Homo sapiens: one gene and its partner. The protein of the gene in region 2 interacts with the protein of the main gene of each other region in a pairwise test. Each region holds a gene or a part of one and is shown on either strand. Other genes may lie near its edges.

Region 1 (3,518 bases), on a different chromosome or scaffold from region 2:
GGCCTTATTTTATTTTTTTTGAGACAGCATCTTGCTCTGTCACCCAGGCTGGAGTGTAATGGCGCGATCTCAGCTCACTGCAACCCCTGCCTCCAGGTTCAAGCGATTCTCGTGGCTCAGCCTTCCAAGTAGCTGGGACTACCGACATGCGCCACCACACCTGGCTAATTTTTATATTTTTAGTAGAGATGGGGTTTTGCCATCTTGGCCAGGCTGGTCTCGAACTCCTGGCTTTCAGTGATCTGCCCACCTCGGCCTCCCAAAGTGCTGGGATTACAGGCTTGAGCCACTGTGCCCGGCCTTTCAGAGGTTTTATGTCCAGCTCTACCACTTCCTAGCTGTGTTACTACGGGCAAGTCACTATAACTCTCTGAGCTCCAGTTCTTCATCCATTGGAGTGATAGCACTTTCCTCCTAGGGTTGTCATAAAAGTTAGATTAAGGCAAGGCCTGAAATACACACAGAGCAGCATCTGGCACACAGTGAGCATTCAGTTCGCAGTAGCTATCACTGCTCCCGTGGCCTCCAGTGCCTTCTCATCTCCTCTCTACTGAAGAAGGCAGTACCCACAGAGGCTTCAGAAGCCACATGTTGGGGCTTCCTAAACCAGAATCCCACACCTCTGTAATAGGTCTCACACACACGAAGGAAAAGAACCACAGGACACAGGCTTGTTGGGAGTATAAAAATAGGACTTTTTTCCTTATCACATCAATTATCAAAGAAACAGTACGTAACAAAAATACAAAGCTCTGGTGGATTTTTTTGTCTTTTGTCCCCCCCACCACCACTTCTACCCAACAGCCCCTTGCCAGGGAGCCCTTGGCTGAAGCCTGGACGCTGTCCCTGAGGTGACCCCAGGGCTCAGGAGAAACGGTGGTCCAGGTCTCTCTGGGGGCTAGCAGAGTATGAGTAGGCCTTGCCCAATACCAAGCGGTCCCGGAGCAGCTTGAAGAAGGCATAGTAGTTGCTGAAGAGGATGAGGGCCAGCGAGATGGTCTGGTGCCACTTTTCAGAGGACATTAGGGAGTACAGCTGATAGACAATGACAGCGCCCTCCAGCAGCAGGAGGATGTTGAGGATCCGCAGGGGTTTGCTGAAAAAGAACTGCCCGGAAGCGGGTGGGCATGGCTAAAAGGTGTGCTCCAGAAATCTTCCTCCTGGATGGGGGTTCTGGGTGGGCCAGTGAAGGGGACAGCCTCCTGGGGCCCCATGCAGACATGGGTGGGGAAGAAGACTTTCTGGGGTTGGATGTGGACTTTGCCACCTCATCTGCCTTTGCTTGTGGTATTCCTCCTGATAGGACTGCTGCTTCTGATGTAAGTCATCTAAGATCCTGTTCAACTTCTACCTCCCCTAGGAAGTCTTTCTTGACAGGTTCTGCTTGCTCTCTCAAACTCTTTTTGTGGTCTAAAGTCAACACCTTTAAAAAAATTTTTTTTAATTTTTGAAAACTTTTTCTCCCTCATCCACTGACCCTCAATAAAATCAACACCTTTTAATGTCATCTCCTGGGTATTGCTGGGCCTGAACAAATTAGAATCCTATGACATAGGCATGGAAAGTTATTACAGACTCTACAGCCTGAATTACCTACTACTTCATAGGTACATCCCTAGCTAGGCTGGAAGCTGCCAAGGGACATGGCAACAGCTCACTCTCAACAGCAAGGTAGAACGTAGGGACTAAAAAAAAATCTCTGATGAGTTCAAAAGAGTGCACAGTGTCTAGGGATTTTGATTCCACAGGGGCCAAGGTACCTAAATCTCAAGAGCTGCTTACAGGACAGGAGAAGTGGTAGGAAATGGGAGGCCAAGAGACCAGGATATCAGGCTCAGCTCTGCACCTAACAGGCTGCAATACTTTGGTCAAGTCCCTTTCCTCTCTGGGGCTTGGATGTCTCAACTGTGAAATGAAGACATCAGTCTAGGTCAGTGATTTCTCATGCTGTGTTCCTTAGAGCCCCAGGTTTCAAGGGGATCCTTTAGGAGTTACAGCGGGGGTGAGCAGGAAGTGAAGGGGGTTCTAACTCCTCCAAACAGAGCAGTGCCAGGATGTCCCATATATTGGATTTTGGCCTCTGATTGTTTTTTTTAAAAAAGGGGGGGAGGGGATTTCATAGTGAAATTTAAAAAAAAATAGAGATCACTAGTTTAGATAATTTTGAGCAGCCCTTTCCATAGCTAAGTCATGAGTCATTACCATTAGGTTCTCAAGTTTCCCAAGAAGGCACCCTTTAACAAGTTAAACTCTCTTAGCTGATTTCAGTATCTAAAAACAGAGATAACCCTAGCATATCTTTCACGTACAAGGTTCAGGGTAAGGCTGAGTAGGAAGGTACATGGAGAGTGCTTAACGACATGCCTGGCACACAGTAACAAATGAAGACAGTATTGTCTTTCACTGCCAAGAGCCCCTTCTTTTACTGTATCATCTTCTCTCCCTCTGTCCAATGTTCTCAAAGATCTACAACCAAATGAGCTGCAGTTATTTATTTATTTATTTTTGAGAATGAGTCTTGCTCTGTTGCCCAGGCTGGAGTGCAGTGGCATGATCTCGGCTCACTGCAACCTCCGTCTCCTGAGTTCAAGTGGTTCTCCCTCCTCAGCCTCCCGAGTAGCTGGGATTACAGGCGCCCGCCACCATACCTGGCTAATTTTTGTATTTTTAGTGGAGACGAGGTTTCACCATGTTGACCAGGCTGGTCTGGTCTTGAACTCCTGACCTCAGGTGATCTGTCTGCCTTGGTCTCCCAAAGTGCTGGGATTACAGGCGTGAGCCACCATGCCCGGCCGAGCTGCAGTTATTAAGTGACAATTTATATGGCTGTCCTTGTGCTACATGTGTGCACTGTCTTCCTTTGGATTGGGGAAATACTGAAAATAGCTTTCTCTTGCAATGACATCACATTCCTGCCCTGCAGATCCTCCCACCCTCTCAGGCCCCAACCCTCCTTCCCCGGGGAGGAGACTCACATGGAAGCGGAAGTGGGAGACGTCAGAGGGGATAGCCACGTTGTAGTGGCCTACGGCTTTGTAGACGTTCTTGCTGTGCTTCACCAGCACGCCCTGCGGCCACATGCATTCTTCAGTCCACCTGGGGGCACAGTTCAATGGTGCCCCTTATCCCCAGCTCACCCACAAAAGGGATACCAGAAGAATGGGCAGGAGGGAATCACCAGGGCTCTACTCCCATTTCTATCACTTAGACACGCTGACTTTCCTTTTCTGGGTTTCAGTTGCCTCCTCTGTAAAATGGGGTAAGAATCATGAGGAATTCACTGTACTGTGAGTTAGGTGGTCTAGGGCTGACATTAATTACTAAGAGACTGTTGAGAGAACCCTTCTTCCTCTCTGGGTCCCTTTGCTTCATCTGGTCTCACCTCTTGCCTCCAAGTGGTCCACCACACAGTTGTCTGAGTGGTCTTTGTAAAATACTAAGCTCAGCCTGACCACCCTCTGCTTAAAACTCTTTGTGGGCTTTTTTTTTTGAGAATGAGTTTCGATCTTGTCGCCCAG
Region 2 (4,555 bases):
AGCTGGCGTTGACCAGGTCCACTAGACGGCCCTGGTCCAGCTTGTCCAGGCTGCGCACCCGTAGCATTCGCTCGGCGTTCTTGAACAGGGTCCCGGACCCTGGAGGAGGATGGGGAGGGGCTAGTCTGGCTGGAGGGCCGTTTGCGCAGCCTGGTGGGGACTGCAGGTAGGACAGGCGCTGGTGGGACAATTTCCGTCTTTGGGAGACCTCCACAGTGAAATGATTTCAGTGGTCTGCATAGATTTGTCTGTGATTTTCATTCAAGGAGATGCTTTCCCCAGGCAGAGATTGTGCCCCAAGTTCCTCCTGTCGCCTGGAGCCCCACCCACTTCCGTTAGTCTTGCCTCGCTCCTTGAAGTCTGTCTCCCGCCGCTGACCCGGCCCACCCACCTAAGCCCCGCCCATCTCTCCCGGTCGAACACCTCCCTTATGGTCCCGCCCCTGGCCCCGCCCACCGGGGGGCCCCTCCTTCTCCCCCCTAGTCCCGCCCATTCCTTTAATTCCTTCGGAGTTCCCTTCCAGTACACTGGGTCTCCTCCTCTCTCACCTCCCCCGGGTTTCGGCAGCAGCAGGAGCCATTGCTGTGACACCCCCCGCCTCCCCCTACGGCTCCTGGACAGGAGGAGAAGCCGCTCCTCCTGACCGCAGACACCCAGCCCCGGCCAGTACTCACTCCCGGGACCCAGTCCCCGGCCCGCCCACCGCCCTCACCCTTGTTGCTAAAGAGCTCAGTGAGCAGCGTGCTAGCGGCGGTGATGACGGCCGAGGAGTGGTGGGGCAGGCGGCTGAGCACGTCCACGATGAGCCGCATCTGCTGCCGTTCTTTTGTGCTCACCCACTCGGCGTTGCACACCAGGTCCAGGTCGGCGGGCAGGTTCACGTTACTCAGGACCTGTGTCCGGAGTCAGCGGGTGAGCCTGGCCCACAGCCGGCACGGACTGCCCCCCTACCCCCACGGACCTCTCTTTTCTCTGACCCCTTTATCCTTACTTCCGCCCGGAGTCCTTAGCCAGGGAGGGCGCAGATCTGGGCACCCAGGGCTGAACTCCTCCCCTATACTCCCTTAGGCTTTTCTACCCACCCGGCTTGCTAGTGAGTCTGCGGCCCGTCGGGGAGAAGTGCGAGGGGCGCAAGAGAAGGCCCGGATCGCCGGCGTGGGGGAAGGTGAAAGAAAGGGCCGCACCTTATGACTGCTGTCGCGCAGGCCGCCTGTGTTATTGAGGAAGATGATTTTGGTGGGCCGCAGCGCCTTGGCCAGCGACGCGGTCACCTCCAGGGAGTCGAGAAGCACGGAGCGGCGCGCGGCCGTCTCCCCGATGGGGCACAGGATGGGGATGCTGCCCGACTCCAGGCACCACTGCAGCAGGTCTGTCTCCACCGAGACGATGCCGCCGTAGCTGTGGGCCAGACGTGGTGCTCGAGAGGGCCCCCTCCAGGCCTGCCGGACGGGGCAGGGCGGGCAGAGTAGCACGCTCTGAGGACGCCTGGGCGGGCAGGGCGGGCACTCACCTGGCATGGGGAGCCGGCTCGGCAGCGCGTAGCACAGACCCGCCGCCAAAAAATGGCACAGCAGCGGCGGCGTTGTGTCGAAGCGCGTCTACCAGCACCTTGCAGCTCTTGGCCAGCTGCGCCTTGGCCTCCCAGAAGGAAAGACAGCCCGAGGGAGCCGTAGGGGCCGGCAGCCCCAGGACCACCAGCGGCTTCATGTCCATGCGCTGCAAGAAGGCCAGGGCAAAGGCCAGACTGGATACGCCCTGCTGGCACTTGAGCACCTCCTCGTCCACCTGCGGAGGAGTGGGCTTTCAAGGAGCGTGACACGGACCTGAGCCGCTGGCTCCCACAGCCTGGCCTGCAGGGCCGTCTCGGTGACCCTACCCTTCCAGAAGCTGTCAGGACCCAGTTCTGGCCACCAGTGCCCACCTGCTCCGCCCTTTGCCCCGTTGGGTCTTGCCACTCCCTTGTCTCACGCTGGGGTACCTCCCGCCCTCCTCCCTCCGACCTTGGACTCCGGGACATCTTTGGGGGAGGGGCAGTGCAAGCGGCTCCTGTCCAGGTCCTTCTGAACCCCTAACTGCGCCCATGTTGGGGGCCTTCTTCAGAGCATCACACCTGGCGGGTGGGGTCCCCCAGGATCCTCACTCGGGCTGGGCGGGAGGCTTCCGGAGGAGCTTACGGCCTCTCCCATTCCCGGCGGCGCTGGTCTGGGCCCTGCCGGGCTCCTTCCCGCTTCCGCTGCGCAGAGCCCGCAGCGTATCCTGCCATGCCTGAGGACAGGTGGCCGCACAACCCCATCCCCTCGCTGCGTCACGGCCCACGCCGGGCTCCGCTCACCTCGATGACGGCGAAGGGCTTGTCCGCGGAGTGATGGCAGGTCTGGAACTGCGTGAGCCAGTGGCGCGCCTCCCCAGGGCTGGCCCCGCACTGGTTCAGGAAGGCCTGGATGTCCCGCTGCACCAGCGAGCGGCCCGAAGGAGGCTCTGGGGACTCGTGGGGCACCGGGGGCCTGGGACTCGGCACCCACGACGGCTCCTCGGCGACGGGCGACTGGGAGACGTCGTCCGCGCCCGCGTACTCCTCGGGCGGGGGCTGGGGCTGCGACCAGGCGGTGCTGAGCCGGCGCCCCGGGCTGGTGCCCCTCGCCGCCCGCCGCCGCGCGCCACAGCTCAGCCTTCGGGCGCCCCCAGTGCCTCCCCGGCCTCTCAGCCTCGGGGCTACAGCAGCTGCCCGCAGAACCACAGCCATCAGCGCCGTCGCCATGACGACAACCAACTCTTGCCCCCCAAGAGTGGCAGTCTGTCTGGAGCGTCTGGCACTGGGGGGCTCTTAACTTGCCGTTGGGCGGGGCTGGACCTGGTCGGGGCGGGGTCCGGACAGGGGACCAGGAGTCTCCTCTGGGTGCGTTTGAGGAGGGTCAGGCCATGAGTCAGGGGGCGGGGCCACTAGGCTCCCCCGCCCCTGGAGGAACTGAACCCACTATCGGTCATGGGGCCGAGACTAAATGTGGCGGGTTGTCTTTAATCTGCTGCCAAGGTAGGTTCCAGGGGCGGCTTTGGGAGTCTGCAGGGCCTTGGATGATTGGCATTCTGACCAGAGAAGAAGGGACTGTAGGTGGCTTTGAGCACAGGGCTGGGCAGGGGGCTGGAAGGAGGGCGCTGGAAAGAGTAGAAGAAGGGGGGCAGTGGGAGGGCGGGGGCGGGTGGTGCTGGCCTTGTCTGTCCTGTTGCCTGAGCTCAAAAAAGATCCTAATGAATGACCATGAGGTTACCAGGGTTTGCCAAACTCCAGTCACTGGGTACCAGCTTGAGGAATTCTGTGATATCCTCAAAACACCCCTCAAAACTTATAATACTTTAGTGTTAATGCTTTTCTTTATCGAATATCACATCTGGTAAAAATAAAATAAAATAGAGTTTTTTATTTTGGTTTTTGAGATAGGGTCTCACTCTGTTGTTGCCCAGGCTGCAGTACAGTGGTGCAATCATAGCTCACTGCAGCCTCCACCTCCCAGGTTCAAATGATCCTCCTGCCTCAGTCTCCCTAGTAGCTGGGACCACAAATGCACACCACCATGCCCAGCTGATTTAAAAAAAAATTATTTTTTTTGAAGACGGGTGTTCACCATGTTGCCCAGACTGTTCGTGAACTCCTGAGCTCAAGCAGTCCTCCCACTTCTGCCTCCCAAGGTGCTGGGATTACAGGTGTGAGCTACTTCACTCGACCTCTGTAACCCTTTTTTTTTTTTTTTTTTTTGTTTGTTTGTTTGTTTGAGATGGAGTCCCACCCTATTGCCCAGGCTGGAGTGCAGTGTTGCGATCTCGGCTCACTGTAATCCCCGCCTTCTGGGTTCAAGCGATTCTCCTGCCTCAGCCTCCTGAGTAGCAGGGATTACAGGCAGACACCATCACACCCGGCTAATCTTTGTATTTTTAGTAGAGACAGGGTTTCACCATGTTGGCCAGGATTGTCTCAAACTCCTGACCTCGTGATCCACCTGCCTCAGCCTCCCAAAGTGCTGGGATTACAGGCGTGAGCCACCACGCCCGGCCCTCTTTAACCTTTTTAAACTTAAAGTTTATCCATGTTAGGTCTGTAACTAGGCCAGTATCACTTGCCATAAGCCTTAAGAATCAAGTGAGGAGGCGGGTGGGTCATTTGAGGTCAGAAGTTCAAGACCAGCCTGGCCAACATGGTGAAACCCCATCTCTACTAAAAATACAAAAATTAGCCAGGCAGTAGTGGCATGTTTCTGTAATCCCAGCTACTCAGGAGGCCAGAGAATCACTTGAGCCTGGGAGGAGGAGATTGCGGTGAACTGAGACTGTGCCACTGCACTCCCGTCTGGGCGACAGAATGAGACCCTGTCTCAAAAAAATTAAAATTAAAATTAAAATCAAAATTAAAAAAGAATCAAGTGAGAGGAAAACAATGTTATTACATTCCATTATATTCCATCTGCATAGCTTGCCTGCTTTCTTGGTAACATGGAAGGTTAGCAGGTGCCATGTGTTAAAGATACCCTAGCACCAAGCAAAGCCTTCTGTGTGGTAGAGGAAT

What was found.
Region 1: the proteins of NAGS (region 2) and TMEM39B interact in a two-hybrid assay, tested with the Homo sapiens proteins (one large-scale study listed by IntAct).

What each region holds. Positions count from the first base shown.
Region 1 is NC_000001.11:32,100,020-32,103,537, reverse strand, and holds the end of TMEM39B (transmembrane protein 39B), read right to left. Parts: intron 3,248-3,518; exon of another isoform or gene 3,097-3,247; coding exon 2,976-3,096; intron 2,798-2,975; coding exon of another isoform or gene 2,627-2,797; exon of another isoform or gene 2,467-2,626; coding exon of another isoform or gene 2,431-2,466; exon of another isoform or gene 1,424-2,430; coding exon of another isoform or gene 1,325-1,423; exon of another isoform or gene 1,108-1,324; coding exon 865-1,107; 3' UTR 675-864; downstream 1-674. UniProt on the Homo sapiens protein: May protect the cells against DNA damage caused by exposure to the cold-warming stress and facilitates tissue damage repair during the recovery phase.
Region 2 is NC_000017.11:44,002,867-44,007,421, reverse strand, and holds the start of NAGS (N-acetylglutamate synthase, mitochondrial), read right to left. Parts: upstream 2,801-4,555; 5' UTR 2,759-2,800; coding exon 2,333-2,758; exon of another isoform or gene 2,111-2,332; intron 1,786-2,110; coding exon 1,511-1,785; intron 1,399-1,510; coding exon 1,185-1,398; intron 894-1,184; coding exon 713-893; intron 100-712; coding exon 1-99. UniProt on the Homo sapiens protein: Plays a role in the regulation of ureagenesis by producing the essential cofactor N-acetylglutamate (NAG), thus modulating carbamoylphosphate synthase I (CPS1) activity.